4 separate regions of the Homo sapiens genome follow, and all the other regions are linked to region 1. The links come from fine-mapping of genetic effects on gene expression. A gene starts in region 1. Each other region holds a variant in brackets. All regions are shown on one strand. Distances are from middle to middle. Region 1 holds the start of TNFRSF13C (TNF receptor superfamily member 13C). Region 2 overlaps WBP2NL (WBP2 N-terminal like). Region 3 holds the start of MIR33A (microRNA 33a). Region 4 holds the start of LOC105377203 (a long non-coding RNA gene).

What was found.
Region 2: its variant is fine-mapped to the expression of TNFRSF13C in whole blood (INTERVAL, PIP 0.95).
Region 3: its variant is fine-mapped to the expression of TNFRSF13C in left ventricle (GTEx, PIP above 0.99).
Region 4: its variant is fine-mapped to the expression of TNFRSF13C in whole blood (TOPMed, PIP above 0.99).

What each region holds. Positions count from the first base shown.
Region 1 is chr22:41,923,437-41,931,536 of GRCh38, reverse strand. It overlaps TNFRSF13C (TNF receptor superfamily member 13C), which reads left to right and starts at 4,731. Exons shown (of 3, transcript NM_052945.4): 1 at 4,731-4,899; 2 at 5,206-5,436; 3 at 5,983-8,100. The coding sequence starts at 4,764. The coding sequence ends at 6,170. It also overlaps a transcript of CENPM not described here. RefSeq lists enhancers at 1,512-2,121, 2,122-2,732, 2,876-2,945, 5,503-6,002, 6,003-6,504 and a silencer at 4,671-5,410.
Region 2 is chr22:42,010,242-42,018,341 of GRCh38, reverse strand. The region is part of intron 1 of WBP2NL (WBP2 N-terminal like); the gene reads right to left. Among named protein-coding and RNA genes, the nearest start is that of WBP2NL, 16 kb to the right of the region's middle. RefSeq lists enhancers at 216-1,781, 980-2,653. The variant A/G (reference allele first, on the strand shown) is at 3,504.
Region 3 is chr22:41,894,786-41,902,885 of GRCh38, reverse strand. It overlaps SREBF2 (sterol regulatory element binding transcription factor 2), which reads right to left. Exons shown (of 19, transcript NM_004599.4): 13 at 7,949-8,066; 14 at 5,725-5,834; 15 at 4,105-4,237; 16 at 2,388-2,556. It overlaps MIR33A (microRNA 33a), which reads right to left and starts at 1,942; the gene lies at 1,874-1,942. The variant G/C (reference allele first, on the strand shown) is at 3,640.
Region 4 is chr22:42,146,846-42,154,945 of GRCh38, reverse strand. LOC105377203 (a long non-coding RNA gene) reads left to right here and starts at 5,446. Exons shown (of 3, transcript XR_938280.2): 1 at 5,446-5,667; 2 at 6,593-6,974. It also overlaps the pseudogene CYP2D8P. The variant G/A (reference allele first, on the strand shown) is at 5,044.

The sequences.
Region 1 (8,100 bases):
CTTCTCTCTGAAGACCCCAAACTATCTTGTTATTTTATTATTATTTTTTTTTTTTCTGAGATGGGGTCTCGCTCTGTCAGCCAGGCTGGAGTGCAGTGGCACGACCTCAGCTCACTGTAACCTCTGGCTTCCGGGTTCAAACAATTCTTCCTGCCTCAGCCTCCCAAGTAGCTGGGATTACAGGCGCCAGCTACGACACCCGGCTAATTTTTTTTTTTTTTTAAATTTCTTATAGAGAGAGGGTTTCACCATGTTGGCCAGGCTGGTCTCAAACTCCTGACTTCTGGTGATCCACCCGCCTCGGTCTCCCAAAGTGTTGGGATTACAGGCATGAGCCACCACACCAGGCCCAAATTATCTTTTTAAAAAGAGTATTCAGTGAATTAAAAGTAGAGCATGGTGGCCGGGTGCAGTGGCTCACGCCTGTAATCCCAGCACTTTGGGAGGCCGAGGCGCGCAGGTCGCTTGAGACCAGGAGTTCGAGACCAGCCTGGCCAACATGGTGAAGCCCCGTCTCTACTAAAATGCAAAAGTTAGCTGGGCATGGTGGCACGTGCCTGTTATCCGAGCTACTGGGGTGGCTGAGGCACGAGAATCGCTTGAACCCAGGAGGTGGAGGTTGCAGTGAGCCAAGATCGTGCCATTGCATTCCAGCCTGGGCAACAGAGCGAGACTCCATCTCAAAAAAAAAAAAAAAAGACTTGAATAAAGAAATTAGGCCAGGAGTGGTGGCTCATGCCTGTAATCCCAGCACTTTGGGAGGCCAAAGTGGGCAGATCACCTGAGGTCAGGAGTTTGAGACTAGCCTCCCCAACATGGCGAAACCCCACCTCTCCTAAAAATACAAAAAATTAGCCGGGCCTGGTGGCAGGTGCCTGTAATCCCACGTACTCAGGAGGCTGAGGCAGGAGAATCGCTTGAACCTGGGAGTTGGGTGTTGCAGTGAGCTGAGTTGGGTGTTGCTTATCGCACTGCTGTATTCCAGCCTGGGCGATAAGAGTGAAACTCCATCTCAAAAAAAAAGAAAAGAAATTAGGCCAGGCGTGTTGGCCAAGGTGGGTGGATCACTTGAGGTCAGGAGTTCAAGACCAGCCTGGCTAGCATGGTGAAACCCCATTTCTACTAAAAATACAAAAAAATTTAGCCAGGCATGGTGGCCCGTGCCTGTAGTCCCAGCTACGTGGGAGGCTGAGGCAGGAGAATGGCTTGAACCCAGGAGGCAGAGGCTGCAGTGAGCCGAGATCACGCCACTGCACTCCAGCCTGGGTGACAGAGCCAGACTCCGTCTCAAAAAAAAAAGGGACGCGGTGGCTCACGTCTGTAATCCCATCACTTTGGGAGGGCGAGGCGGGCAGATCTCGAGGTGAGGAGATCAAGACCATCCTGGCTAACGGTGAAACCCCGTCTCTACTAAAAATACAAAAAATTTGCCGGGCATGGTGGCGGGCGCCTGTAGTCCCAGCTACTCGGGAGGCTGAGGCAGGAGAATGGCGTGAACCTGGGAGGCGGAGCTTGCAGTGAGCGGAGATTGCGCCACTGCACTCCAGCCTGGGCGACAGAGAGAGACTCCGTCTCAAAAAAAAAAAAAAAAAAAAAAAAAAGCCACGGGGAAATAAGAATACATTGAGGAGTAAACTAACATTCCCCACATTGGTCTGATTGTGAATTCTTCTTAACTGTTTTGTCATCCAAGTAGCGACACAGGGCCTGCTGCAGCCCCCCACCCCCACCCCATTTAGGAGGCCCAAGTGGAAAGGTTCATGTGAGGCCAGGCACCTGCACACAACACAGACACGAATCCCGCAGGCCTTTTGTCCCGGCACCTGGCCCAGCACATAGGGAGCGCCCAGCAAACATTTGTGTCACATGAGTGGGTGTCTCATTTGTGTCTGCTGCTCTTAGCAGCTGGCCTCCCTCTCTGGCCAAGGTAAGGGACCCTGGAACTCTGACAGTGGGCTCCAGCCCTCCCACTCTCTCTGGCCTTGAGAGCAGTCTCCTCGAGTCTCTGCTGGGGGTCAGAGCAGCCAGTGCTTCTGCTGTGAAACGCAGACCTGGGGCAGGCGGACCCCCTCCTCCTAACTCCTGTAAATTCTCCCGACTCTGGCCTCACTGGGCCACCCTCTCCAGGGACAGGTTCCCCGTTCCTGGGTTCCCACAAGCCTCAGTCTGCCCACATGGCTGGCACAAGGGCTAAATGAGCTGCCTGGTACTCAGTCAGGCCTCTGCAGCCCTCACTAATGGGTAATACCAGCACCAACATGGATGGACGTGTATGTGGGTGGCAGGGTTATGGCTCAGTCTTCTGGCTTTGTCCCCACCTCTCTGCCTCACAGAGAGGCCTTCCCTGCCCTGGCTCCCCTCCAGGGTCCTGTCCCCCATCCCTGTACCGTACACCCACGCTCACCCACACCTGCCCCCACCCCCACATCACCATACACCCACGCTCACCCACACCTGCCCCCAGCCCCACTTCTCCTTTGCAGCTCCCCTCCGCCCACACCTTCCTGCCTGGGAGCTGCTGGCCCATGTACAGGGGATGGAGAGGGTGGGCCAGCGCCCACCAGTCAGGGCTGGCTGACTGGGGTTCTTTGTGAACCTTCAGGGTCTCCCAAGCTGGAAACCTGGGGGTCGGCCTTGCTCCCCTCACTCCATGGCCAGCCGCTGCATCATCCCCTGCCCTGGGCCACCTGCCCTGGACGTGGGCCACAGTGCCAGAGAGAGGGACCCTTGCAGGTACAGCTCAGAATCTCCCTCCTACCCAGACACCCCCAGGTTCTGTACTGCCCCGGGACTGGTGCCCTGCCCATCCGCAGCCCGGATGCTCCCTCCTCCCTCCCAGCATCCCCTGTGGCAGTGGCCATGCCTGCCCCCAGAGCAGCTCAGGCTCCCCTTTCATCTCTCCAAGCCTTAGCCCCTGCAGCCCTCCGCCTGGAGTGTTTGCCTCCCCCTCGCTGCTGCTCAGGGTCTCCCTCTGCCCCCAGGCTCCCTCCCCAGCCCCTGAGTTTCTCCTCTCACTGTGCTTCCCCAGCCCTGAGTGCTTAGGGGTCTGGGTGGCATGTGTGGCATTTAACCCCATGCTCTCTGCTGAGCCCTGAGCTCCCAGAGTTCCCTCCAGCCCTGGCCCTGGGGAGGGGGTAGCATGTGACCAGGAGGGCGGAGGGGCTTGTGTGTGTTTCTGAGACGCAGTCTGAGAGAGACACGGGTGACAGACAGTTGGGGACCCCAAACACTGGGGAGCAGAGATAGACAGGAGGGGCCCGCAGTGAGACACAGAGGTGAGCAGGAGAGGACACATAGCCCTGGAGAAAAGGAGCAGGTGTGGGCGGGCTTCCCTCCACTGCAGTCACAGTTCCCTCACTCATAGGCAGATCTTCCTGGGTCCTCCCTGCACAAAGCCCCAGTGGCTCCCTCGTGTCCCCCAGCCACAGTCCAAGCTCCCTAATGTGCTAGATAAGGCCCCAGTCCAGCCTTTCGGTCCCAGCACTCCCTGGACTTCCTGTTTGGGCCTCCAAGCCTTTGCTCCCCTTTGGCCTTCACCCCCATCTGCTCCCTAGACCTCAGTCCATCTGGCAAACACTTCACCATCGCCCTCTCCATGAAGCCTTCCGGCCCACCTTCCAGGATGACGTGAGCTGGTGCCCTTGCTGCGAGGCTGTCTTCCCCCATCAGCACAAGTGTGAGATTCCCTCAGGGCAGACCCACATGCTACTTGGGCCTGGTACAAGTGTCTGATGTCAGGCTGGGCACTGTGGCTTCACACCTATAATCCCAGCACTTTGGGAGGCCGAGGAGGGCGGATCACCTGAGGTCAGGAGTTCGAGACCAGCCTGGCCAAATGGTGAAACCCCACCTCTACTAAAAATACAAAAATTAGCCGGGCATGGTGGTGCATGCCTGTAATCCCAGTTACTCGGGAGGCTGAGGCAGGAGAATCGCTTGAATCTGGGAGGCAGAGGTTGCAGTGAGCCGAGATTGCACCACTGCACAGAGCCAGACTCTTTTTCAAAAAAAAAAAAAAAAAAAGCAGGTGTCTGATATCCCCAACCAGCTCTGTCCAGGAAGGGCAGGAAGAGAGGAGGAGACAGGTGGGTTGGGGGAGATGGCAGGGGAGCACTCGGGGTCATGGAGAGGCTTTGGCTAGACGGAGCAGAGGAACCACTCAGGGTCTGTGTCCTGGCTGCGGGGTCCATCCCCCTCCCTACCCAAGAGGAGGCTCTGGTCTGCCCCCAGACACCTCCCAGCACCCAGCAGAGGGCCCACCCAGGCGGTGCTGGTTGAGGGGCTGAATTGGGGAACCACAGGTAGAAAGAGAGGCCAGGCCGGGTGCGGTGGCTCACGCCTGTAATCCTAGCACTTTGGGAGGCCGAGGCAGGTGGATCACGAGGTCAGGAGTTCAAAACCAGTCTGACCAAGATGGTGAAACCCCGTCTCTACTAAAAATACAAAAATTAGCCGGGCGTGGCAGTGGGCGCCTACAATCTCAGCTACTCGGGAGGCTGAGGCAGAGAATTGTTTGAACCCGGGAGGCAGAGCTTGCAGTGAGCCGAGATAGCGCCATTGCACTCCAGCCTGGGCGACAGAGCGAGACTCCGTCTCAAAAAAAAAAAAAGAAAAGAAAGGGGGGCCCCAGGCGAGCTCGGTCCCACCCAGCAGGCGGGGGCGGGGCAGGGCAGAGTGCTCCCCCCGCCCCCCGCTTCCTCCCCGAGGGCCCCGGAGCCCAGCTCAGCCTCAGTCCCCGCAGCTTGTGCGGCGGCGTCGGCACCATGAGGCGAGGGCCCCGGAGCCTGCGGGGCAGGGACGCGCCAGCCCCCACGCCCTGCGTCCCGGCCGAGTGCTTCGACCTGCTGGTCCGCCACTGCGTGGCCTGCGGGCTCCTGCGCACGCCGCGGCCGAAACCGGGTAAGGGGGACCCACGGGGCGCGCGGCGCCGGCAGCTGCGGGGAGAACGGGGCCCCGATCGCCAGGGCGCAGGCAGAGCCCCGACCCCCGGGGGCGCCGAGGGCTGAAAGGACCCTGTGGGCAGGGCCTGGAGGGGCCCGCGATCACCGCGTGGCCCTCACCGCCGCCTCTCTCCCTCCCCTTGTCCACCGCCCCCCGGCTGTCCCTCCCCTCCCCGGCCAGCCTCGCCCCCCTCCGCCCCTCCCCGTCCCCGCTCCTCCCTCCCCTCGGCCCCCTGGCCTCCCTCCCTGTCCCCTCCCGAAGCAGCCGGGGCCAGCAGCCCTGCGCCCAGGACGGCGCTGCAGCCGCAGGAGTCGGTGGGCGCGGGGGCCGGCGAGGCGGCGCTGCCCCTGCCCGGGCTGCTCTTTGGCGCCCCCGCGCTGCTGGGCCTGGCACTGGTCCTGGCGCTGGTCCTGGTGGGTCTGGTGAGCTGGAGGCGGCGACAGCGGCGGCTTCGCGGCGCGTCCTCCGCAGAGGCCCCCGACGGAGACAAGGACGGTGAGTTCCGTGTGTAGGGGAACCAGTCTGAGCGGGGCGCAGGGGCTGGGGTGTCGGGACGGTCTAGGGGGAGATGCATGGCCCCTGAGGGGGAGAGAAGGGCTTTAAGGGGAAACGGAGACAGAGTGGAAAAGAGTTTGCGCTGAGGAGCTCAGGCTGGGGAGGGAGACATAGTCCTGCCCCTGAGACCCTGGTCGGAGCCAGGAACAGCTCTGCCCTGACAGACCCCAGTGTGAGGAAGAGACAGGTTGCAGGAAGGGGGCCCCGTCTGAGGGAGGAGTCTGTCCTGCCCTTTGGGAGTCTAACGGAGCTTGGTTCCCCCATAAATCCCTGAAGAGTTTGCCAGACTGAGCCCCAGCTCCCCAACTCCCTGCCCTGCCAGCTCCCCACTGGCCAGGCCTCTGGACTCAGGGTCAGCCAGGTGCCACCCCTCCCCACCCTGCATTGGGCTTCATTTGACGGAGGACTGCCCCTCCAGAGGAGTCTTCTAGGGGAGGGAGGGAAGGCTGTGACTGAGTACGGAGCCTCTACCCCCTCTGCCTGCAGCCCCAGAGCCCCTGGACAAGGTCATCATTCTGTCTCCGGGAATCTCTGATGCCACAGCTCCTGCCTGGCCTCCTCCTGGGGAAGACCCAGGAACCACCCCACCTGGCCACAGTGTCCCTGTGCCAGCCACAGAGCTGGGCTCCACTGAACTGGTGACCACCAAGACGGCCGGCCCTGAGCAACAATAGCAGGGAGCCGGCAGGAGGTGGCCCCTGCCCTCCCTCTGGACCCCCAGCCAGGGGCTTGGAAATCAAATTCAGCTCTTCACTCCAGCATGCACATGCCCTCTTTCTGGGACCAGGCTAACTCTGCAGAAGCACAGACACTACAGACCACAGCATTCAGCCCCCATGGAGTTTGGTGTGCTTGCCTTTGGCTTCAGACCTCACCATCTTTGACAGCCCTTGAAGGTGGTAGCCCAGCTCCTGTTCCTGTGCCTTCAAAAGGCTGGGGCACTATGAGTAAAAGACCGCTTTTAAAATGGGGAAGGCACCATTAAGCCAAAATGAATCTGAAAAAAGACCAAGTGGGAGGATGCCTAATTTGTAGTTGGGTGGTTTTTTGTGTTTGTTTGATTTTTTTTTTTTTTTTTTTTTTTTTTTTTTGAGACGAGTCTTGCTCTGTCGCCAGGCTGGAGTACAGTGGCGCGATCTCGCCTCACTGTAACCTCCGACTCCTTGGTTCAAGTGATTCTCCTGCCTCAGCCTCCCGAATAGCTGGGATTACAGGCACGCACCACCACAGCCAGCTAATTTTTGTATTTTTAGTAGAGACGGGATTTCACCATGTTGGCCAGGATGGTCTCGATCTCCTGACCTCGTGATCCGCCCTGCTCGGCCTCCCAAAGTGCTGGGATTACAGGCATGAGCCACCATGCCCGGCCTTGTTTTGTGTTTTGGTTTTTTTTGAGACAGGGTCTTGCTGTATCACGCAGGCTGGAGTGCAACGATGGGTCCCCAGCTAATTGCAGCCTGGGCTCAAGCAATCTTTCTGCTTCAGCCTCCTGAGTAGGTGGGACTACAGGTGCTCCACCTTGCCCAGCTAATTTTTTTTTTTTTTTTTTTTTTGAGACAGAGTCTCGCTCTGTCGCCTAGGCTGGAGTGCAGTGACGCAATTTCGGCTCACTTCAAGCTCCGCCTCCTGGGTTCACACCATTCTCCTGCCTGAGCCTCCTGAGTAGCTGGGACTATAGGCGCCCGCCATCACGCCCGGCTAATTTTTTTTGTATTTTTAGTAGAGACGGGGTGTCACCGTATTAGCCAGGATGGTCTCGATCTCCTGACCTCGTGATCCGCCCGCCTCAGCCTCCCAAAGTGCTAGGATTACAGGCGTGAGCCACCGTGGCTGGCCTTTTTTTTTTTTTAAAGACAGGGTCTCGGTATGTTGCCCAGGCCAGTCTCAAACTCCTGGCCTCAGGCAGTCCTCCCCGAAGGGCTGGGATTATAGGCAGGAGGCGCCGGGCCTGGCCTCTATTTCTTTAATACCTGCCCTCAGAGCCGTCCTGCTTTTAAACTGATGCAAATGGCAGCAGTGAATAATCAATTCATGGGTTCGCTTGCTTTGGGATTTAGTACAAGATTATTTTAAGAAATAACAAAGGAGAAAAGATTGAGCTGGATTTTGCTGATTCTCAGGTATCTGTACCCCAGGGTCAACCCTGAGATTGGCCCAATCTGCCAGAACCTAAGATGCCATTTTGACCCCAGTGGCAGCTTCCAGAGCCACAAGCCTGCATTTGGGAGGAGGTGCGCAGCCTCCAGGGCTGGACTCCAAACTCGAGCTGAAGGAACATGCTGGCAGGTAGCTCTCTCAGGGTCCACCTGGGGTTCCAGCTGCTCCAAGACACAGCACATTTAGCCATAAACATGGAAGGGCTGGGACCTACAGGAGGCTCCTTTGTGTAGAGGCCAGGGCAGGCGTGTGACCTTGAACCAGGTGGACATGAGGTCCCTTGAACTCCCTTCTCTCTCTGGCTTGTTCCCCTGAAGCACTGGCCCCCCAGTGCTGGGCTTATTTGGCCATCCTGTGCCAGCCCCCTGGTCACCCACCGTCACAGTGGAAGCTGCTCCCTCCTCTTACAATGGTGTTCCTTGCTCTGGGGTCTGGGGACAAGACCAT
Region 2 (8,100 bases), 87 kb before region 1:
TTTCTTCTGTCTTTTTTTTTTTTTTTTTTGAGACAGGGTCTCACTCTGTTGCCCAGGCTGGAGTGCAGTGGCATAATCTCTGCTCACCAACCTCCACCTCCTGGGCTCAGGTGATCCTCCCATTCAGCCTCCTGAGTAGCTGGGACCGTAGGCAAGCACCACCACGCCTGGCTAATTTTTTTTTTTTTTTTTTGAGAGAAGTCTTGCTCTTGTCCCCCAGGTTTGAGTGCAATGGCTCGATCTCGGCTCACTGCAACCTCCGCCTCCCGGGTTCAAACGATTCTCCTGCCTCTGCCTCCCAAATAGCTGGGATTAAGTCGCCTGCCACCATGCCAGGCTAATTTTTGTATTTTTTGGTAGAGACGGGGTTTCACCATGTTGGCCAGGCTGGTCTGGAACTCCTGACCTCAGGTGATCCGCCCGCCTCGACCTCCCAAAGTGCTGGGATTACAGGCGTGAGCCACTGCACCCGGCCAATTTTTTTGTATTTTTAGTAGAGATGAGGTTTCACCATGTTGCCCAGGATGGTCTCAAACTCCTGGGCTCAAGAGATCTGCCTGCTTTAGCCTCCCAATGTGCTAGGACTACAGGAATGCGCCACCATACCCAGTCCCCCAGCCTTTTCTTTCTTAATGATATATGTAACCAATGTATAATGATCATTAGGTACAATGTCTGCCTTCTTTGCTACTCTAGCCCTAGCAAACAGTGGGTGCTCTAAATAGTTATTAAAAGAATGAATGAAAGCATGAATACAGATCATAATGCAAACAATATATGACATACATAATATAAATGTATGTCATACATTTATTAGTAACAAACTGTCATAGCAATTTAGTGAAAGAAGAGATTCGTTTTAGTTGAAGTAATTAGGAATGACCTAATAGAAAGACTGCAATTTGAGCTGATTAAGAGATGGGTAGTATTCTGGCTGGGCACAGTGGCTCACGCCTGTAATCCCAGCACTTTGGGAGGCCGAGGCTGGCGGATCATTTGGGGAGTTAGAGACCAGCTTGACCAACATGGTGAAACCCCATCTCTACTAAAATACAAAAAGTATCCAGGCATGGTGGTACATGCCTGTAATCTCAGCTACTCGGAAGGCTGAGGTGGGAAGATTGCTTGAGCCATGGGGCACAGATTGCAGTGATCCACTGCACTCCACCCTGGGCAACAGAGTATGACCCTGTTTCAAAAAAAAGAGAGAGAGAGAGATGGGTAGCATTCAGTAGGTAGAGGTGAAGGTAGAGGACAATCCAGATGGGAAGCAAACAGCATTCATGGAGGTGCAGGAGCAGATATGGAAAGCAAACTGCATACTTGGGAGAAGCCTAGTGGTATGGCTTCATCAAAACACAGTGTGGAAGTGAGGTTAGGAGAAACAGTGAAACAAAGTTGGAAAGCTATGCTGGAACTACAGCTTAAAGACATCATTTGATAGGCAAGGAGAAACTGTGAGCTTCAGATTTCTCAACAGGAAAGTCACATAATCAAGAAGGTAGTGTATCAGAGGGATCAGTTTAAGAATTCCTAAAATAGTCCTGATGCAAGGTAAAAACTGGAACTAGGGTGGTAATGTGCAGATTAAAAGGGGAGGATTTTTAAAAGACTATGAAAATACAGGACATTAGCAAAAAACTGTGGAATGGGAATCTTTAAATGTCAGTCTAGCCATAAAAGCAATAAATAAAGCAAAAGAAAACCTGTCAGAATCAACTTTTTCAGAACTCTAGAATCTAATCAAAAGCTTATGGTAACTAGGGGAATGCTTAAGTAATTTTTTTAAAAAGCCAAATCTCAGTAAGTAAGCTTTATGACATTTTAACCTACCCTGGTATCATCCCCCACTACTAGCTTGGCAGCAGCTTTGAAGACAACAATCTATATTCCCATGATAGATACGAAGTACTGGAGGGAGCAGAACACACTTATTTTTAAAAATTGTAGTTTGACTTGTCTGGTGGCTCCTTGAAGGACCGGCTCAAAGGGCATGTATTTAATTTGTAATTTTCCCGGGACTGATGAGGCTACCGGGAGGCATTTGTCAAAAACATTTCCGGCCGGGTCCGGTGGTTCATACCTGTAATCTCAGCACTTTGGGAGGCTGAGGCGGGAGGATTACCAGAGGTCGGGAGTTCAAGACCAGCATGACCAACATGGAGAAACCCCGTCTCTACTAAAAATGCAAAATTAGCTGGGCCTGGTGGCATGTGTCTGTAATCCCAGCTACTCGGGAGGCTGAGGCAGGAGAATTGCTTGAACCCGGGAGGCAGAGTTTGCAGTGAGCCAAGATCTTCCCATTGCACTCCAGCCTGGGGAACAAGAGCGAAATTTCATCTCAAGAAAAAAAAAATTTCCAAGCCAATGTATTAGTTGCTGCTACCTAGCGAAAGGGATGACAACTGGGGCAAAAAAACAGACAAATTGAAAAGCTAAAGGAAAGGATGAGCAATGAGATGCTTTGAGGAATAAAGGCTTCGAAAAGCTCACACATATTCCTGAGAAACAAGAAAGCCATACACATACATGTCCAGGGCTAGATTCATACTAAAAACAAACAAAAAATGAAACACACACACACACTGAAGAGGCACTAAGCTTTCACCTCTGATTGACAATTAGAAGTGATGCAAAAAGGCCTCGGTGCGGTGGCTCACGCCTGTAATCTAGCACTTCGGAAGGCTGAGGCAGGCAGATCACCTGAGGTCAGGAGTTCAAGACCAGCCTGGCCAACATGGCAAAATCCCATCTTTATTAAAAATACAAAAATTAGCTGGGCGTAGTGGTGGGCGCCTATAATCCCAGCTACTCAGGAGGCTGAGGCAGGAGAATTGCTTGAACCCGGGAGGCAGAGGTTGCAGTGAGCCAAGATCATGCCATTGCACTCCAGCCTGGGCAACAGAGCAAGACTCTGTCTCAAAAAAAAAAGGAAATGATGCAAAAAGAAGTGAAGGTGAAGGCAGAGTTGTAAACTGCCTGGCTGAGTAAGAAAGGCACGCTCATGCTCCAACACACACAAAGCCCATCTGCAAGGGCTGGGAGATTTTGTTGTTGTTGTTCCAGACATAGAAGAAAATTTCTGTCAAATCACTAGCTGGCCACTGAGGTAACAGAACTGAGATTCCAGTGGCCACAAATAACAAAGAATACAGACTTTACAAAATTAGTACAGAAAAGTCACTGTACAAACAAATAACAAGCAACAAAAATATACCCTGAAGAAGAGGGAGATTCTACTTTCCAGAGTTACTACATTAAAATATTCAAAATGTCCAGTTTTCAACAACAACAAAAATCACTAGGCATGCAAAGGAACAAGAAAGTATGGGAATACACAGGAACAAAATAAATTAATAAAAACTGTCCCTGAGGAAGCCCATACATTGGATTTATCAGACAACACTTTAAATAAACTATTGTAAATATACTCAAAGAGTTAAAGGAAATGATGTCCAAATAACTAAAAGAAAGAATACAAACAAAGTCTCAGGAAGTAGAGA[A/G]TATCAATAAAGAGGCAGAAATTATTAAAAGGAACCAAACAGAAATTCTAGAGTTGAAGACTACAACTGAAATGAACAATTTAATCACTGGGGCTCAACAGCCAATTTTGGCAGGCAGAAGAGAGAATTATTGAACTTGAAGTAGGTCAATGGGAATAACGGTTACTACCTGAGTAACACAAATGGGAAAAAACGAAGAAAAAATGAACGAAGTCTAAGAAATCTGTGGGACACCATCAAACATACCAATATATCTAGAATGGGAATTCAAGAAGGAGAGGAGAGAGAGAAAGGGGAATAAAGAACATTTGGGGCCAGGCGCGGTGGCTCATGCCTGTAATCCTAGCACTTTGGGAGGCCACAGTGGGCAGAATGCGTGAGCACAGGTGTTCAACACCAGCAAGGGCAACATGGTGAAACCCTATCTCTACAAAGAATACAAAAAATTAGCCAAGCATGGTGGAGTGCACCTACAGTCCCACCTATCCAAGACACTGAGGTGGGAGGATTGCTTCAGCCTGGGAGGTCAAGGCTGTAGTGAGCCACGACTGTACCACTGCACTCCAGCCTGGGTGACAGAGGGAGACCCTGTCTCAAAATAAGAAAAAAGAATATCTGAGCCGGAAACAGTGGCTCATGCCTGTAATCCCAGCAGTTTGGGAGGCTGAGGCGGGAGGACTGCTTGAGCTCAGGAGTTTGAAACCAGCTTGGGCAACATAGTGAAACCTCACCTCTACTAAAAATTTAAAAATTTGCCGGTGGGGTGCGGTGGCTCATGCCTGTAATCCCAGTACTTTGAAAGGCAGAGGCAGATGGATCACCTGAAGTCAGGAATTCGAGCCCAGCCTGACCAACATGGTGAGACCCCATCTCTACTAAAAATACAAAAAATAGCCAGGCGTGGGTGGTGCATGCCTATAATCCCAGCTACTCCGGAGGCTGAGGCCGGAGAATTGCGTGAACCCAGGAGGCAGAGGTTACAGTGAACTGAGATCGCACCAATGCACTCCAGTCTGGGCAACAGAGTGAGACTCTCTCTCAAAAAAAAAAAAAATTAAAAATTTAGTCAGGTGTGGTGGCATGCATCAGTAGCCCCAGCTACTCAGGAGGCTGAGGCAAGAGAATCACTTGAGCCTGGGATGTCGAGGCTGCAGTGAGCTGTGATCGTGCCACTGCACTCCAGCCTACGTGATAGAGACCCTATCTCAAAATAAATAAATAATGGCCAAAACCTTCCCAAATTTAATGAAATACATGAATCTACACATCCAAGTGCAACAAACTCCAAGTAGAATAAACTCAGTTCCACACTGACATGCATTATAATCAAATTATTGAAAGCCAAATACAAGGAATCTTGAAATTAACAAGATAAGTGACTCATCACGCACAAGGAATCCTCAGACTAGCAGCTGATTTCTTTTTCTTTTTCTTTTTCTTTTTTTTTTTTTTGAGATGGAGTTTCACTTTTGTTGCCCAGGCTAGAGTGCAATGGCACAATCTTGGCTCACCACAACCTCCACCTCCCAGGTTCAAGTGATTCTCCTGCCTCAGCCTCCCGAGTAGCTTGGATTATATAGCTGGGATTACAGGCATGCACCACCACACCCAGCTAATTTTGTATTTTTAGTAGAGATGGGGTTTCTCCATGTTGGTCAGGCTGGTCTCGAACTCCCGGCCTCAGGTGATCTGCTCACCTCGGGCTCCCAAAGTGCTGGGATTACAGGCATAAGCCACCACGCCCGGCCAGCAGCGATTTCTTATTGAAATCATGGAGGCCAAAAGGAAATGTGATGACATATTCAAACTGCTAAAAGTAAAAAAACACTCCGTTGTTTTTTTTTTTTGAGACAGAGTCATGCTCCATTGCCCAAACTGGAGTGCAGTGGCATGATCTTGGCTCACTGCAACCTCCACCTCCTGAGTTCAAGTGATTCTCCTGCCTCAGCCTCCTGAGTAGCTGGGACTACAGGTGCGTGCCACCACGCCCAACTAATTTTTTGCATTTTTAGTAGAGATGGGGTTTCACCATGTTAGCCAGAATGGTCTCCATCTTCTGACCTCGTGATCCACCTGCCTCGGCCTCCCAAAGTGCTGTGATTACAGGCGAGAGCCACCGTGCCCAGCCCTAAAAACAAAAAACTCTTAACCAAGAATTCTATGAGTGGCAAAACTATCCTTCAAAAATTAAAGAGAAATTAAGACATTACCAAATAAACAAAAAATGAAAGCTCTTTACTAGTAGATTTGAAATACAAGAAACGCTATATTTTATAATATGTTTTCTGATTACAATGGAAAGAAACTAGAAATCAACAGCACAAGGAAAACTGCCACAAATATGTGGAAATTAAACAATACACTATTAAATAAATGAGTCAAAGAAGAAATCAGAGGGAAATTAGAAAGTACCTAGAGAAAAATGAACATGAAAACACAACATACCAAAGCTTATGGGTTGCTGTAAATGCAGTGCTAAGATGTTTATAGCTGCAGATGTGTACTTTAATAAAGAAGAAAGATCTCAAATCGACAACCTAACTTTATGCCTCAAGGAACTAAAGAAAAACAAATGAAGCCCAAAGCTAGCAGAAAGAAGAAAATAATAAAGATTAGAACAGAGATAAATAAAAGCGAGAATAGAAAAAAATAAGAAAAAAAATTTAAGTTCAACAAACTTGACAAACTCTTAGCTAGATTAAGAAAAAGAGAGAAGTCTCAACTAAAATCAGAAATGAAAAAGAGGATATTAAAACTGATGCCAGCCAGGCATGGTGGCTCAGCCTGTAATCCCAGCACTTTGGGAGGCCAAGGCAGGTGGATTACTTGAGGCCAGGAGTTTGAGACCAGCCTGGCCAACATGGCGAAACCCCATCTCTAGTATAAACATTCAAAAAAATTAGCCAGGCATGGTGGTGGGCACCTGTAATCCCAGCTACAAGGGAGGCTGAGGCAGGAGAATCACTTTAACCCAGGAGGCAAAGGTTGCAGCGAGCCAATATTGCACGACTGCACTCCAGCCTGGGCGACAGAGTAAGACTCTGTCTCCAAAACAACAACAACAAGAAAAACAACAACAACAACAACCAAAAAAAAAACTGATGCCAAGGAGTTACAAGGATTAAAGAGAAAACCAAGGACAATTGTATGTCAAGTTGGATAACCTAGAAGAAATGGATAAATCCCTAGAAAAACACAACCTACCACACTGAATCATGAACAAACATAAAATATAAACAGACCAATTAACTAGTAAGGAAATTGAATCAGTAACCAAAAACCTCTCAGCTAGGTGTGGTGGCTCATGCCTTTAATCCCAGCACTTTGGGAGGCTGAGACAGGAGGATTGCTCGAGGCCAGGAGTTTCCGACCAGCCTAGGCAACTTGAAAACCTCATCTCTACAAAATATATAAAAAAAAAGTTGGGTGTGGTGGCACACATCTGTAGTCCCAGCTACTCGGGAGGCTGAGGTGGGAGGATCACTTGAGCCTCGGAGATTGAGGCAGCAGTAAGCTGTGATCATGTCACATCACTGCACTCCAGACAGGGTGACAGAGTGAGAACCTGTCTCAAAAAGAGAAAAAAAAACCTCTCAACAAATTCTATTATACAAAACGTTTAAAGAATTAACTAATCTTTCTGAAACTCTTCCCCAAAATTAAAGAGGAAGAAACACTTCTAGGCTTACTTTATGAGGCCAGCATTACCCTGATACCGAAGCCAGACAAAGAAACTACAATAAAATAAAATTGCAGGTCAGTATCTCTGATGAATATTGATGTAAAAAATCCTCAACAAAATACTAGCAAACCAAATTCAGCAGCACATTAAAAGGACTATACACTATGACCAAATGGGGTTTACTCCTAGAATGCAAGGATGGTTCAGCATAGGAAAATGAATCAATGTAACACACCATATGAACAAAATGAAGGGAAAAAACCATGCGATCATCACAATCGATGCAGAAAAAGCATATGAAAAGATTCAGTATATTTTTGGCCAGGCGTGGTGGCTCACGCCTGTAATCCCAGCTCTTTGGGAGGCCAAGGCGGGCGGATCACGAGGTCAGGAGATCGAGATCATCCTGGCTAACACGGTGAAACCCCATCTCTACTAAAAATACAAAAAATTAGCCGGGTGTGGTGGTGGGCGCCTGTAGTCCCAGCTACTCAGGAGGCTGAGGCAGGAGAATGGCGTGAACCTTGGAGGCAGAGCTGGCAGTGAGCCGAGATTGCGCCACTGCACTCCAGCCTGGGCAACAGAGCGAGACTCCGTCTCAAAAAAAAAGAAAAAAAAGAAAAGAAAAGGTTCAATATATTTTCATGATAAAAACACTCAACAAACTAAAAGTAGAAGGAAGCTACCTCAACATAATAAAAGCCATATATGAAAAGCCTGCAGCTAACAGCATACTGAATGGCAAAAGACTGAAAGCTTCCCCTCTAAGATTAGAAACAAGGCAAGGATGCCTGCTTTCACCACTTCTATTCGACATAGTATTGGAAGTCCTAGCCAGAGCAATTAGGCAAAAAATAAAATAAATAAATAAATGGTATTCAAATTTGGAAGGAAGAAGTAAAATTAACTCCGTTC
Region 3 (8,100 bases), 29 kb after region 1:
CAGACCAACACTCAGCAGCTCTGGGAGGAAGTGGAGAGCCCCAGAGTCTGGTGAACTCCGCAGGACGTGAGGGAACAGCTCAGGGGAGAACCAGTTCCTTCCATGGCCCCAGGAGGTGGGAGACAAGCCCTCCCCATTCTGCAGGTGAGAAAGCAAGGCTCTGACAGGGACAGCAGCTTGTATAGGGAATACAGCACAGGCAGGTGGCAGGGGCAGAAATAAAACCCTTGTGGGTTGAAGGCGCAGGTTCTTCCACCCCATGGGAGTCCCACCATGGCTGGCTAGGAGGCTGAGATACCCACAAGGTACCAAGGAAAAGCCTGAAGTGGCAGCAGAGCCTGTCGATGGGGCTGGGGGAAGGAGGAGGAGGAGTGGGAGAGGGAGACAGGTGTCTCAGAAGACAGAACCACAGAGTGCCTTAGTGCTTGGGGACTAGGCCTACTGACCCGGCTTTGCCACTTACTAGCTACATGACCCTGGCATAGGACTTAGTCTCTCTGAGCCTCAGTTTCTTCATTCAAAAAAATGTAAATGGCACCATCACAGGGCTGTTGTATCATATGAGAAGGTACTGCATGTGGGCCATGCATACTCTCTGCCTACGACCTATGGGGCTGGGCTGCCCACCCGGCTCGCAGTGGCACACCTGCACGACACCGAGCAGTGAGGAGTCCTTGTTGAGATGGGCCGCAAGCAGCCCTCCGGTCCTGATGAACTCCCTCAGGCTGAGCCTCATCTCACCCAGCCCTGGCTTTCCTCCTTCCCAGGACACTGGGCCTGAGGAAGACCCTGCCCTGTCCCTGCACAAGGCCTTGATCCTTGCCTACACTGTTTTCTGGCTGTTGTGTGCTTCAAGGGGATGTGGAAAAGGATCCCTCTCCTCAAAACCTGGCACTTCTAAGCTGTGCATGCTGCAGAAGCACCTGTGGGCATGGAGGCAGCAGGCCTATGTCTGGATTCTGCCCTCCGAGGGCCATCAGGCTGCATGGCGTTGTCTTCTAGGCTCACTTTCCTACCACAGAGCTGCTACCAAGGAACCCCAGTCCAAAGGGTGGCTGCAAGCCTCTCATTCCCCAAACTGAGCCTGTACTGTTTGGTTCTCTCATGAAGACAAATACGGAAGAGACTAATGGAAAGCCCAAAAGAGAAGGTGAAATGTGGCTCACCATCTGCCTTTGGTCTTGGCAGCCCAGGGCATTTGGGCACCCCCACCAGCTTTTTTTTAAAGATGGAGTCTCGCTCTGTTGCCCAGGCTGGAGTGCAGTGGTGCAATCTCGACTCACTGCAACCTCTACCTCCTGGGTTCAAGTGATTCTTCTGCCTCAGCCTCCTGAGTAGCTGGGATTACAGATACATGCCACCACACCTGGCTTATTTTTGTATTTTTAGTACAAACGGGGTTTCACCATGTTGGTCAGGCTGGTCTCGAACTCCTGACCTCAGGTGATCTGCCCACCTCAGCTTCCCAAAGTGCTGGGATTACAGGTGTGAGCCACCGCGTCCAGCCAGTTTGGGCCTTTTCTGCACATTGCCTGTCCCTGTAGGGGCTGCCACGCTGTCCTGGGTTCATCCCAGTGCCCAGGTCCACTGACAATATCTAGCTTGAAGTACTAGCCTAGCCAGCTAAGACCAAGCCCCAGGGAGTGGCTGAGAATCTGAATCTCCAGGACTCTCCCGGTCCCTCCCACTCTGGAGCTAAGGACATGTTCCCCGTAGACCAGGTGATGCTCCACTTTCAGCTGGGTGCCCTCCTGTTTCCTGGGATGGCTGTGACTTGGGCCCCAACAGTGGCAGCAGTGCCCTCTATCAGGATCCCCTCCCCCACCTGATAGGGCCTTCAGTCAGGGCAGTCTCTCGAGGGCCAGGCAGGCCTCTGTGATGCACTGTGGAAACATTGCATGGGTACCACCAGAACATGCAATGCAACTACAATGCACCACAGCTGCCCGCCAGGAGGTATGCGGCCAGCCAAGGAGGTGCCCAGGGTGGTCTTCAGCTCTGTTTGTGTGCCCGAGGGGGCAGGAACCCACTCCAAGGCTGCCTGCAGAGGCCTGGGAAGTCACGCAAACCGCTGGAGCAAATGCAGGTGAACCCCTGGCCAGCTGGGGTGCACCTGGGCTTACAGAGGCTATGGGCCAGCAGGACCTGGGACTCTGGGAGCCTAAGAAAGGTGCAGGTAGAAACACACTTGCCTCAGAGGCTGAAAAGGGATGAAAAAGGAGTCCACCTAGGCCAATAAGCCGTAACTTTTTTGAAAGGGGGCTGCTGTCCTGGTTTCTCTGTCTTTCGGATGGCCCCACCCGCAGGGTCAGCATGAGGTGAGTGGGAGTGTTCTCGTAAACCAGTGCAGAGCACCTCCCCCAGGGGCCAACTCAGCTCCCACTCACGTGGTTGAGGGCAGGGTCAGAGGTGGCCCCACTGACGTTGAGGCTGCTCCATAGGTGGCCACTGGCCCTCTCGCAATGGCAGAAGGAACTCTGCTGCCCATCTGCTTTCCCAGGGAGTGAGGCATGCATGGCTCTGCAGGCATGGAAGATGGCCTTCACCAGGGGGCTCCTGCAGCAGTGACAGGGAGTCGAGAGGCAGGTCACTATGTGTCACCTGCGTGACAGGCAGAGGGGCCCAAGCCAGTGACTGCCACGCCCCACACTGATATGACATGTGCATCTGTTGACTCCAATGCTGCCACTATGGCACCATGCCACCAGCTCCAGATCTGAAATGCCAGCCCTGAGCTAGGGTTAGCGCCCCACCCTTTAGCACCTTCATTCAATGCTGGAAGTCAGAGACACAGGCTTCACCATCACGTCTGCTGCTAAGAAGCCACCCAAGATAGTCATTCCAACGTGTGCCTCAGTTTCCTTACCTATAAAGTGGCCACAATAAGGTGTTGTACCCGTTCTTTAAGGGACCACCCCCCCAGAGATGTGGTATTAAACTCTCTGGAGATACTTAGTTAGCTTCTTTCTGTAGAGGAGACTGGGAGTGGAAGGGGAGGCTAGGGATGGGGGAGGGTTCTCATAGCATCCTAGTCCCTGAAAAGCAGAGGGACCCAGGGGTAAGTGAATCCAGCAGGCAGCAGTGCCTGCAGGGGTGTCTTGGCTGTCCATGGAAGCTCTGCTGCTCTGGAGCGAGGTGACTTTGGACAACTTACCTGCTGAGTCTCAGTGTCCTCAGGCACATCGACTGGGGGAGACACACATACAGGTGGAATGCTATACCGGGCTGGGTGCTTACCTAGTCAGAGTGCTTACAAATGGGGCTACTTCAATGAAATTAGGGTGTCACATCTACTTCAGGGAACAAAGGACTTCAAGCCTGTGTATACTCACTCTTCTCAGCTCCTTCCTGTGCGCCGGTTAAGGGTCTGCTTGATAGGAAATGCTACAGCCTTGGCTCTAAGGATAGGACCTCGTGGGGCCTTTCTGTCTTGGAGCATTTTACAGTTTCTCTTAGAATACTCAGATCCAATTAGAAACAGCCGGGGAGTCAGCAGGCAGGGCTGCCCATCACTAGTGCCGAATGCCCCCAAGACGCAGACATGAATCTCCAAAGAGGAATGTCAAAAGCTCTCCGGTTATGCCATGTGCTAAAGGCTATTTTAGTTACAGGACAAAGTTGCCAGGGTTGATGGTGGGG[G/C]TGGAGGTGGCTGGAAGGAAAGTGGATAAAATGCTAGCACACAGGGGCAAGATGCTCCAGTGCACATGAGTTTTGGGGGCAACAGTGGCCTCTCTGCACTGATTGTGAACCACCAGTGCCTGCCTCCACCACAAAGCTTCTGAAGATGCTGGGGGCCACACTGCTCTCGTCTCTTCTTTTCAGCCTGTGGCGCCATGAAGGCTGCAGGGAGGAGGACCCGGACACAGTGCTGACAGCTGCTGGGACAACTGTCGTGTTGTGCAGAGCAGGACACTTGCACAGAGGACCTGCTGGCCCAACTTGAGTTCTCCATGGTGCCCTCACCCCCGACTTTTCTAGCCGCCCACCTGTCATGCAGTCCTGACCCTTCACCCCAACACGCCCACCCAGTCCAGTTTGCTCCTGCTAACTCAAACAAGATTCCCCTGGAGAGAAGCAAGTGAGTGGCCAAGGAGGGTTACGCACTCTGTCACTTCCAGGGCCTTGGGGATGCGTTCCACTTTGGTAAAATGAGAGCGCACAGCTGCATCGTCTCCCTGGAGCCAGCTGATGGCCACAGTGATTGCAGACGTCCACCACCGACAGATGATGTCTGGACCTAGAGGAGAACAGCACCAAACGCACTCCAGCACCCACAGAAACGAGACCTGTGGCGCTCAGAGGCTGCTACACTTCCTTCCTAGGAGATGGGTAACATCTTTGCCTGCTGGGAACGGGCCAGCAGCCTCTGGGCTCCCACACCCAGGATTCTGGGGGAGGGGAATAGACCAGCACAATCTTGGAAAGTGTTTGGCAATATATATCAAGAGCCTTAAAAATGTTCATTCCTGGTTGGCCGCGGTGGCTCACGCCTGTAATCCCAGCATTTTGGGAGGCTGAGGCAGGTGGATCACCTGAGGTCAGGAGTTTGAGACCAGCCTGGCCAACATGGTGAAACCCCCTCTCTACTAAAAATACACAAAAAAATTAGCTGGGCATGGTGGCGGGTGACTGTAATCCCAGCTACTAGGGAGGCTGAGGCAAGAGAATCGCTTGAACCTCGGTGCGGGCGGAGGTTGCAGTGAGCCGAGATCGTGCCATTGCACTCCAGCCTGGGCAACAAGAGTAAGACTCCGTCTCAAAAAAAATAAAAAAGTTCACTCCCGTTAAGCTAGTAATCCCATTTTTGGCAGTCTGTCATAATGAAACTGGCTTAGAGAGAAAAAAGTTTAACACATATTTGACTGCAGTGTTGTTTTTAAATAAAAAGATGGATACAACCTAAGCTTTCAATAGCCATAAAGAATGGTATCTTCAAAGTATCTGGAACAGGCTCCTGTTAGAATATTTTAAGTCTTCTCCTCTCTCAGCCTTAGTTTTCTCAACTGCAAAATGATGACAGTAGTGATCCCACAAAACCAGCGGGGATGGTCATGCTTCCCTAAACTTGAAAACAGAGGCCACAGGTCAGGGATCATGATAGGGTGGCTGATTTTCTGGGATCCCTCCCTCCCTAGGGAGAGTGACCAGCGGTAGCTTGGTACCCCCATCTTCCAGGGTGGCCACAGAAGCCCAAGAGTTGGCAGCTGATGTGCTATCATCCTGATGGCAGTTTAGGGACAGAAGCAAAGAAATGTCATGATGTCAATCCAGTCAGTGGGCTGTGCTGTGACACTGATGTGATGAGGGGCTGAGGAGTGGTAGAGAGGCCCAGATGAAAAGTCTCTTCAGCAAAGAGCATAAGGCCCAAGAGCTGCCTCAGGGGCCACTGTGCATCTGAAAGGTGACTCCCCACCATCCCTGGTGCCTGGGCCACTCATTGCTTGTTCTTCTGGGCATTAAGAAGGGTCCTCACCTGGGTCACACAGCTAGGGCTTGAGGAAGACATTCAATTACTCATTGCCCTACTTCTCTGAAAACCATAGTTTCCTGCCTCTGAGTGCTGTTTGGGAGGGGGTGACTGTGAACTGGAGCCACAGGTATGAACCTGGGATCCAGAGAAGATGCTGGCATCTACACTCCTAACGCCCTGGACCCCTGGGGCAAAAGCACTGTGAAGACCTGAACTGAGCACCCTGAGACTGTGGGCCACCCGCAGGTGCTTACCCAGGGCGGACTTGAGCACGGAGCTCCTGGAGAGTGGGGGGCTCATAACCCCCACAGAGTCCACAAAAGAATGAAGTAATTTCAAGTACTCCAGAGCACTGGAGAATTCACTAGGAAGAAAAGAAAGGGTCCCATGTACATCAAAACATATACACAAGGCCCACCTCATGGCCTAGCTGTTCAGCTCTCCAGCTCTAAGACCCAATGGCCATTTCTGTCCCTTTCCTGTCATCCCAGGCACACGCAAGCGCTGTCTATGTGTACCCTTTGTATTCCTCAGGCATCCTTCCTCCGTGTCTCTGGGCTGTCACTGACACTCTTCCCTCTACTGGGGGCCTTTCCCTAGCATCCCCCACAGCCTACCCTCACTCCTCTCCTTAAGCCCCAAGTCCAGTGTCATCTCCTCCCAAAAGTTTTCTTATCTCCCAGGCAGAACTGCCCCCTCCCCCTCTCCTCAGGTGCACCCTAATCAGGATCTGGGCCTTGTAGGAAAGTGACTTTGGGGCCGGGCACGGTGGCTCACGCCTGTAATCCCAGCACTTTGGGAGGCCAAGGCAGGCAGATCACTTGAGGTCAGGAGTTCCAGACCAGCCTGACCAATGGTGAAACTCTGCCTCTACCAAGAAATACAAAAATGAGTCGGGCATGGTGGCGCGTGCCTGTAATTCCAGCTACTTGGGAGGCTGAGGCAGGAGAACCGCTTGAACCCAGGAGGCAGAGGTTGCAGTGAGCCAAGACTGTACCACTACATTCCAGCCTGGGTGACAGAGTGAGACACTGTCTCAAAAAACCCCCCAAAAAACAAACAAAAATAACAAAAAACAAAAGTGACTTTGGCACCTATCTGCCTCTCAGGTCTTACTCTGTGAAAGAAGGACTGTGCTCAGTAAGTATGTCAGAGAGAAAAATTGCCCGGCACATTCCATGAGGGGCTGGGTCCCCAAGATGTCCAGGCCAGATGTGTCTGCCTTCTGCTGAGCTCGTCACATTTCATTCCCATCCCCTTTCTTTTTTTTTTTTTGAGACAGAGTCTAGCTCTGTCACCCAGGCTGGAGTGCAGTGGCGCAATCTTGGCTCACTGCAAGCTCCGCCTCCCGGATTCATGCCATTCTCCTGCCTCAGCCTCCGGAATAGCTGGGACCACAGGCGCCCGCCACCACGCCTGGCTAATTTTTTGTATTTTTAGTAGACGGGGTTTCACCGTGTTAGCCAGGATGGTCTCGATCTCCTGACCTCGTGATCTGCCCACCTTGGCCTCCCACCCAAAGTGCTGGGATTACAGACGTGAGCCACTGCACCCAGCCCCCATCCCCTTTCAACAGGCCCCTGCTCCCTACCCCAAAAAGCAGAGCAAGCTAATGAAATCCCTGACTTGGTCCAAGTACTGACTCCGCTTGGTAAAGGGATACATAAAAATGGGTGCACCTGCCAGGCGTGGTGGCTCATGCCTGTAATCCCAGCACTTTGGGAGGCCGAGGCAGGCGGATTGCCCGAGATCAGGAGTTCAAGACCAGCCTGAATGACATGGTGAAACCTCATCTCTACTAAAAGTACAAAAATTAGCCAGGCATGGTGGTGGGCGCCTGTAATCCCAGCTACTTGGGAGGCTAAGGCAGAAGAATCACTTGAACCCGGGAGGCAGAGGTTGCAGTGAGCTGAGACTGGTCCATTGCACTCCAGCCTGGGCAACAAGAGCGAAACTCCATCTCAAAAAAAAAAAAAAAAAAAAAGGCCTGGGCATGGTGGCTCACGCCTGTAATCCCAGCACTTTGGGAGGCTGAGGCAGGCGGATCACGAGGTCGAGACCATCCTGGCTAACATGGTGAAACCTCGTCTCTACTAAAAATACAAAAAATTAGCCGGGCATGGTGGCAGGCGCCTGTAGTCCCAGCTACTCAGGAGGCTGACACAGAAGAATGGCGTGAACCCAGGAGGCAGAGCTTGCAGTGTGCCAAGATTGCGCCACTGCACTCCAACCTGAGTGACAGAGCGAGACTCCGTCTCCAAAAAAAAAAAAAAAACGCACTTGGTCTAGGAGGAAAGGCCAGGTCAGAGTTAACATAGGGCTCTCATTTTTGAGAAATTAAATACAAAGGAACCATTTGATTGCCCTGCCAACCCGATGCCAGGCTTGTTTCCCTCCAGGAGTGCAGGCCTTCAGGCTGTCCTGGAGTTGCCTGCGTGGACAGGTCCTAAGGCAGGGGGACTGGTCTGGGGACTTTACCAGCTCTCTTCTTCCTGGTCTCCAGCCTTCTTCTTGGCCTGAGGTTTCACCAAGGACTCTATAGCTCGCTCCAGCAGGTTCTTGCAGAAGGCCTGGTGGACCTGCGCAATGGGGTCAGCTGGAAAAGAGACAGGCAAGGGGGGTTAAATGGA
Region 4 (8,100 bases), 220 kb before region 1:
GGTGGACCTGATGCAGCAGCACCAACGCTGGACTGCACGCTACCCGCCAGGCCCCCTGCCACTGCCCGGGCTGGGCAACTTGCTGCATGTGGACTTCCAGAACATATACACCTTCAACCAGGTGAGGGAGGAGGTCCTGAGGATCCCCCACCACCAGCAAACATGGGTGGTGGGTGGAGCCACAGTCTGGACAAGAAGCCAGGCTGAGAAGGGGAAGCAGATTTGAGGGACTTCCTGGGGGAGGGCATTTATGCATGGCATGAAAGATGGGATTTTCCAAAGGCCAAGGAAGAGTAGGGCAAGGGCCTGGAGGTGGAGCTGGACTTGGCAGTGGGCGTGCAAGCCCATTGGGCAGCATATGTTAGGAGCACAAAGTCCCCTCTGCTGACACCAGAAGGAAAGGCCTTGGGAATGGAAGACGAGTCAGGGTCCTGTGTGCCGTTTAAATCAGGAAATCAGGCTGTGCGTGGTGGCTCACGCCTATAATCCCAGCACTTAAGGAAGCCAAGGTGGGCGGATCACCTGAGGTCAGGGGTTCCAGATGAGTCTGGCCAACATGGCAAAAACCGGTCTCTACTAAACATACAAAAAATGAGCTGGGCACAGTGGTGCACGCCTGCAATCCCAGCTACTTGGGAGGCTGAGGCAGGAGAATTGCTTGAACTTAGGAGGCAGAGGTTGTAGTGAGTGGAGATTGTGCCATTGCCTTGCAACCTCGGTGACACAGCCAGACAATGTCTAAATAAACGAATAAGAAATCAGGCCGGGCGCGGTGGCTCACGCCTGTAATCCCGGCCCTTTGGGAGGCTAAGGCGGGCGGATCATGAGGTTAGGAGATCGAGACCATCCTGGCTAACACAATGAAACCCGTCTCTACTAAAGATACAAACCAATTAGCCAGGCGAGGTGGTGGGCACCTGTAGTCCCAGCTACTTGGGAGGCTGAGGCAGGAGAATGGCATGAACCCATGAGGCAGAGCTTGAAGTGAGCTGAGAACACACCATTACACTCCAGTCTGGGCGACAGAGCGAGACTCTGTCTCAAAAAAAAAAAAAAAAAAAAAAAAAAAAAAAATCAACGGCTGGGCGCGGTGGCTCACACCTGTAATCCCAGCATCTTGGGAGACCAAGGTGGGGGGATCACAAGGTCAGGAGTTCGAGACCAGCCTGGCCAACATGGTGAAACCCTGCCTCTACTAAAAATACAAAAATTAGCGGGGCACGGTGGTGGGCACCTGTAATCCCAGCTACATGGGAGGCTGAGGCAGGTGAATTGCTTGAACCCGGGAGGTGGAGGTTGCAGTGAGCCAAGATCGCGCCATTGCGCTCCAGCCTGGGTGACAGAGCCAGACATGGTCTAAATAAATGAGTAAGTTAGAAATCAAGGATGAAGGGATATAGTGGACCCGGTTCAAACCTTTTGCACTGTGGGTCCTCGGGCCTCACTGCTCACCGGCATGGACCATCATCTGGGAATGGGATGCTAACTGGGGCCTCTCGGCAATTTTGGTGACTCTTGCAAGGTCATACCTGGGTGACGCATCCAAACTGAGTTCCTCCATCACAGAAGGTGTGACCCCATCCCCGCCCCAGGATCGGGAGGCTGGGTCTCCTCCTTCCACCTGCTCACTCCTGGTAGCCCCGAGGGTCGTCTAAGGTTCAAATAGGACTAGGACCTGCAGTCTGGGGGGACCCTGGCCTGATGGAGGCCCTGACCCAACGGAGGCCCTGACCCTCCCTCTACAGCTGCGGCACCGCTTTGGGGACGTGTTCAGCCTGCAGCTGGCCTGGATGCCGGTGGTCGTGCTCAATGGGCTGGCGGCCGTGCGTGAGGCTCTGGTGACCTGCGGCGAGGACACCGCCGACCGCCCGCCTGCGCCCATCTACCAGGTCCTGGGCATCGGGCCGCGCTCCCAAGGCAAGCGGCGGTGGGGGACAGAGACTGCGTTTCCGTGGGTCCTGGGTGGGCGGTGACCGTAGCCCAAGCTGGGCTGAGAGGGCGCGGGGTTGTGGGCCAGTGAGTGGGTTGGGGACAGCGAGCCAGGAAACCACTTCCATTGGGGAGGTGCGAGTCTGTGGGCGGGAGGAAGAGGGGCTTGTGAGTGGGCGGGGCAACTGCCGAGACCCACCAGGAACCGGGTGGGCGGAGCTGGCGCCTTTCCCAGCTGGAAGCGGGTGTCTAGAAGCCGGGATGGACTCTGCTGTGGGCTCAGTATGGGCGGGGCGGGACGGGCGGGATCTTCCCTGAGTGGAAAGGCAGTCAGGGTCGGAAGAGCCAAGGTGGGGCCAAGACCCAAGCAAGGTGAGTGAGCAAAGAGCAGGCCCTGTGCCCAGCTGGACAGGGCCAGGGACTGCGGGAGACCAGGAAAAGCACAGGGTTGGAGTGGGCGGCGGAGGGCGGGGCCAAGGCCTCCATGACCACGCCCATGTGTCCGTCCCGCCCCCAGGGGTGTTTCTGGCACACTACGGACACGCGTGGCGCGAGCAGAGGCGCTTCTCCGTGTCCACCTTGCGCAACTTGGGCCTGGGCAAGAAGTCCCTGGAGCGGTGGGTGACCGAGGAGGCCGCCTGCCTCTGTGCCGCCTTCGCCGACCAAGCCAGTGGGTGATGGGCAGAGGGGCACAAAGCGGGAACTGGGAAGGTGGAGGACTGGGAAGGCGACCCCTGACCCGCATCTCCCGCCCCCAGGACGCCCCTTTCACCCCAACGGCCTCCTGAACAAAGCGGCGAGCAACGTGATCGCCTCCCTCACCTGCGGGTGCCGCTTCGAGTACGACGACCCTCGCTTCCTCAGGCTACTGGACCTAGCTCAGAAGGGATTGAAGGAGGAGCTGGGCTTTCTGTGAGAGATGTGGAGCGAGGGACCGCAGGGTCTCTGCAGGGCGAGCTCCTGAGAGGTGCCGGGACTGCAGCCGGACCTCCAAGGAGCAGGGTTTGCATAGAGTGGTTTGGGAAAGGACATTCCAGAAGAGCTCACTGCTAGAGGAAGGGCCTTGAGGAGGAGGAGACATCTCAGATACGGTCGTGGGAGAGGTGTGCCCGGGTCAGGGGGCACCAAGAAAGGCCAAGGACCCTGTGCCTCCTGTCCACATTGGAGATTTTGATTTTTAGGTTTCTCCTCTGGCAGCCCAGGGCAAGGAGAGAGGGTGGAGGCTGGCACTTGGGGAGGGACTTGGGGAGGTGAGTGGTGGGGACAGGTAGGCCCTGGGTCTTCCCTGGAGGCAGCTGGGGCCTGAGACTGGTCCAGGTGAACGCAGAGCACAGGAGGGATTGAGACCCCGTTCTGTGTCAGCTGTAGATGCTGAATGTTGTCCCCCTCCTCCTGCGCATCCCAGGGCTGGCTGGCAAGGTCCTACGCTCCCAAAAGGCTTTCCTGACCCAGCTGGATGAGCTGCTGACCGAGCACAGAATGATCTGGGACCCAGCCTAGCCACCCCGAGACCTGACTGAGGCCTTCCTGGCAGAGAAGGAGAAGGTGAGAGTGGCTGACACGGTAGGGACCAGGGGTGGTGGGTTGAGCGTCCGGGAGGAATGAGGCAGGCAAAAGGTGGGTCCATTGGATCACTTGGCAAGTGGCACCTGGGCTGACAGGTGCAGAATGTGGAGGTCATTTGGGGGCTTTCCCGTTCTGTCCCCTGAGTACCCTCTCAGCCCTGCTCAGGCCAAGGGGAACCCTGAGAGCAGCTTCAATGATGAGAACCTGCGCATGGTGGTGGCTGACCTGTTCTTTGCCGGGATGGTGACCACCTCGATCACGCTGGCCTGGGGCCTCCTGCTCATGATCCTACGCCCGGATGTGCAGCGTGAGCCCAGCTGGGGCCCAGTGCAGGGGGCAAGGGAGGAAGGGTACAGGTGGGGGCCCCTGAGCTTAGCTGGGACACCCGGGACTCCAAGCACAGGCTTGGCCAGGTTCCTGTAAGCCTAACCTCCTCCAACACAGGAGGCAGGAGAGTGTCAGGGCTGGTCCCCTGGGTGCTGACCCATTGTGGGGACGCGTGTCTGTCCAGGCCGTGTCCAACAGATCGACAACGTGATAGGGCAGGTGTGGTGACCAGAGATGGGTGACCAGGCTCGCATGCCCTGCACCACTGCCGTGATTCACGAGGTGCAGCGCTTTGGGGACATCGTCCCCCTGGGTGTGACCCATATGACATCCCGTGACATCGAAGTACAGGGCTTCCGCATCCCTAAGGTAGGCCTGGCACCCTCCTCACCCCAGCTCAGCACCAGCCCCTGGTGATAGCCCCAGCATGGCCACTGCCAGGTGGGCCCAGTCTAGGAACCCTGGCCACCCAGTCCTCAATGCCACCACATCGACTGTCCCAGCCTGGGTGTGGGGTGCAGAGTATAGGCAGGGCTGGCCTGTCCATCCAGAGCCCCAGTCTAGTGGGGAAGGCAGACCAGGACCTGCCAGAATGTTGGAGGACCCCAATACCTGTAGGGAGAGGGGGTAGCGTGGGCGCTCCCAGGAGGTGTGACTGCGCCCTGCCATGGGGTCGGAGAGGGTGCTCTGGAGCTTCTCGGGCACAGGACTAGTTGACAGAGTCCAGCTGTGTGCCAGGCAGTGTGTGTCCCCTGTGTGCTTGGGGGTCCCAGCATCCTAGAGTCCAGTCCCCACTCTCACCCTGCATCTCCTGCCCAGGGGATGATGCTCTTCACCAACCTGTCATCGGTGCTGAAGGATGAGGCCGTCTGGGAGAAGCCCTTCCGCTTCCACCCCGAACACTTCCTGGATGCCCAGGGCCACTTTGTGAAGCTGGAGGCCTTCCTGCCTTTCTCAGCAGGTGCCTGTGGGGAGCCCGGCTCCCTGTCCCCTTCCGTGGAGTCTTGCAGGGGTATCACCCGGGAGCCAGGCTCACTGACGCCCCTCCCCTCCCCACAGGCCGCCGTGCATGCCTCGGGGAGCCCCTGGCCCGCATAGAGCTCTTCCTCTTCTTCACCTCCCTGCTGCAGCACTTCAGCTTCTCGGTGCCCACCGGACAGCCCCGGCCCAGCCACTCTCGTGTCGTCGGCTTTCTGGTGACGCCATCCCCCTATGAGCTTT[G/A]TGCTGTGCCCCGCTAGAGTTGCTCCTCAGCTGGGACCCTGTTGTACAATAAATTAGTCTAGTGGCTCCCACTTGGTTTCTGTATCCAGTCTGGGCCCCTGCCAAGGTCCTGGTTGTGTTGGGTCGTCAGTCACCTGCCTGATGTCAGTGCTCACCCCTCACCCCTCACCCCTCACCTCATTCATTCATTTTTTTTTTTTTTTTTTTGAGATGGAGCCTACTCTGTCACCCAGGCTGGAGTGCAGTGGTGCAATCTCAGCTCACTGCAACCTCCGCCTCCAGAGTTCAAGCGATTCTCGTGCCTCAGCTTCCTGAGTAGCTGGGATTACAGGCACCGGGTACCACCCCCGGCTCATTTTTGTCTTTTTAGTAGTGATGGGTTTCGCCATGTTGGCCAGTCTGGTTTCAAACTCCTGACTTCACGTGACCACCAGCCTCAGCCTCCCAAAGTGCTGGGATTACAGGCGTGAGCCACCGAGACCAGCCTCACCTCATTCACTCTTACCTGGACGCCTGACTTTACTTGAGATACAGGCATAGTGATTCTCAGCAGGAAACAGCCTGCCCCCACGTCACGCCCAGAGACCCATCACTGGCTGCCTGGCTTGGTGACAAAGTCCATGCGTAAGTCTTGGCTGGGGTGGATATGAATAGGCATATGCCAAGAATCAACCCATTCCCTGGCTAGGGTGGGAGACTGTGTTGTGCTCCCCCAGACCACCCTCAGGTTCAGTGATTTCTAGAAGGTCTCACAGCCCTAGAAAAGCTGTTATTCTCCCTGTTAACAGTTTATTACAGAGAAGGGTACAGATTAAAGTCAGCAAAGATGAAAGGCACAGGGACCAGAGTCCAGAATGACCAGGCCAAGGCTGCAGCTCTCTTTTCTGGTGGACTCCTACAGGCAGTGCTTAATTCTCCCCCAACAGTAAGTGAGGCAGCAGAGAGCCCTGCCAGCCACGGAAGCTCACCTGGGCCTTGGTGTCCATGGTTTTTGTTGGGAGTTGGTCATCCTAGGCTTGAGCCCCCGCAGCATGGCTGACCTCAGTTACTCAGTCTCCAGCCCCTCCTGAAGTCAGATGGATACAGGCCTGACGGCCCCACCCTCGATCACATTGTTGGCATAAACTGTGTTGTACGGTCCAAGGCCCTAGCTATGTACAAAGACACTATTTCAGGCAGGACATTCCAAGGCCTTAGCAGATATCTCCCAGCCTCCTGTCAAGAGTCAGTTTGGACTCTTGGTCCAGTGGCTTGCATTGTGCAAGGAATGACTTCCCCACTTTTTACTACACAGGCCACCCCTCTTGGCTCTAACAGCAAAATGATATTAGTTTGAGCATCTGTGTGTGTGTGTGTGTGTGTGTGTGTGTGTGTGTTTTCTTGAGACAGGGTCTTGCTCTGTCACCGAGGCTGGAGTGCAGTGATGCCATCAGGGCTCACTGCAGCCTTGACTTCCTGGGTTCAAGCAATCCTCCCATCTCAGCCTCCCTAGTAGCTGGGACTGCAGGCACATGCCACCATGCTTTGCTAATTTTTGTATTTTTTGTAGAGACGGAGTTTCACCATGTTGGCCAGGCTGCTTTCGAACTCCCTATCTCAGGTCATCTGACTGCCTCAGCCCCCCAGAGTGCTGGGATTACAGGTGTAAGCTACTGTGCCCAGCCAAATTTCCTTCCTAATTTCTTCATTGAACCACTGGCCATTCCGGACCATATTGTTTAATTTTCACGTGTATGTATAGTTTCCAGAATTCCTCTTGTTGTTGATTTCCACTTTTATTCTGTTGTGGTCAGAGAAGATGCTTGATATTATTTTAACATTTGTAATGTTTTAAGACTTGCTTTGTGACCTAACATATGGTGTATCCTTGAGAATGATCCATGTGCTGAGGAGAAGAATGTGTATTCTGCAGACTTTAGACGAAGTGTTCTGTAAGTATCTAGTAGGTCCATTTCTTTTGTAGTGCAGATTAAGTCTAATGTTTTCTTATTGGGTTTCCATCTGGGACACCCGTCCAATGCTGAATGTGGGGTGTTGACGTCTTTAGCTGTTATTGCGTTAACGTCTCTCTTGGGCTCCAATAACATTTGCTTTACGTGCTCCAGTGTTGTGTGCATATGTATTTACAATTGTTATATTCTGTTGCTGGATGACCTTCTTTGTCTCCTCTTACAGTTTTTTTGGTTGTTGTTGTTTGTTTGTTTTGTTTTGGAGACGGAGTCTCGCTCTGTCACCCAGGCTGGAGTGCAGTGGCGCGATCTTGGCTCACTGCAAGCTTCGCCTCCCAGGTTGACGCCATTCTCCTGCCTCAGCCTCCTGAGTAGCTGGGACTACAGGCGCCCGCCACCACGCCTGGCTAATTTTTTGTATTTTTAGTAGAGACGGGGTTTCACCATGTTAGCCAGGATAGTCTCAATCTCCTGACCTCGTGATCCGCCCGTCTTGGCCTCCCAAAGTGCTGGGATTACAGGCGTGAGCCACCACACCCGGCCTCCTCTTACAGTTTTTGTTTTAAAATCTGTTCTGTCTAAGTATTGCTACTCCTGCTCTTTTTTGTTTTCCATTGGCATGGAGTATCTTTTTCCATCCCTTTATTTTCAGTCCATGTGTATCTTTACAGGTGAAGTGTGTTTCTTCTAGACAAAAGAGCATTGAGCTTTGCTTTTTCATCCATTCAGCCACTCTGTGTCTTTGTATTGGAGAGTTTAGTCCATTTACATTCAATGTTATTATTGCTAAGCAGGGACTTACTCCTGCTATTTTGTTATTTCTTTTCTCACTGTTTTGTGGTCTTCTCTTTTTTTTTTTTTTTTTTTTTTTTTTCCTTGTCTTCCTTTTAATGAAGGTGATTTTCTCTGGTGGTATGATTTAATTTCTTGCTTTTTTGTGTGTGTGTATCCATTGTGTGTTTTTTCTTCTTTTCTTTTTGAGACACAGTCTCACTTATTGTGTGCTTTTTGATTTGAGGTTGCCGTGAGGCTTGCAAATATTATCTTATAACTCATTATTTTAAACGGATGACAACACTGATTGTGTAAACAAACATAAAGCAAAAGG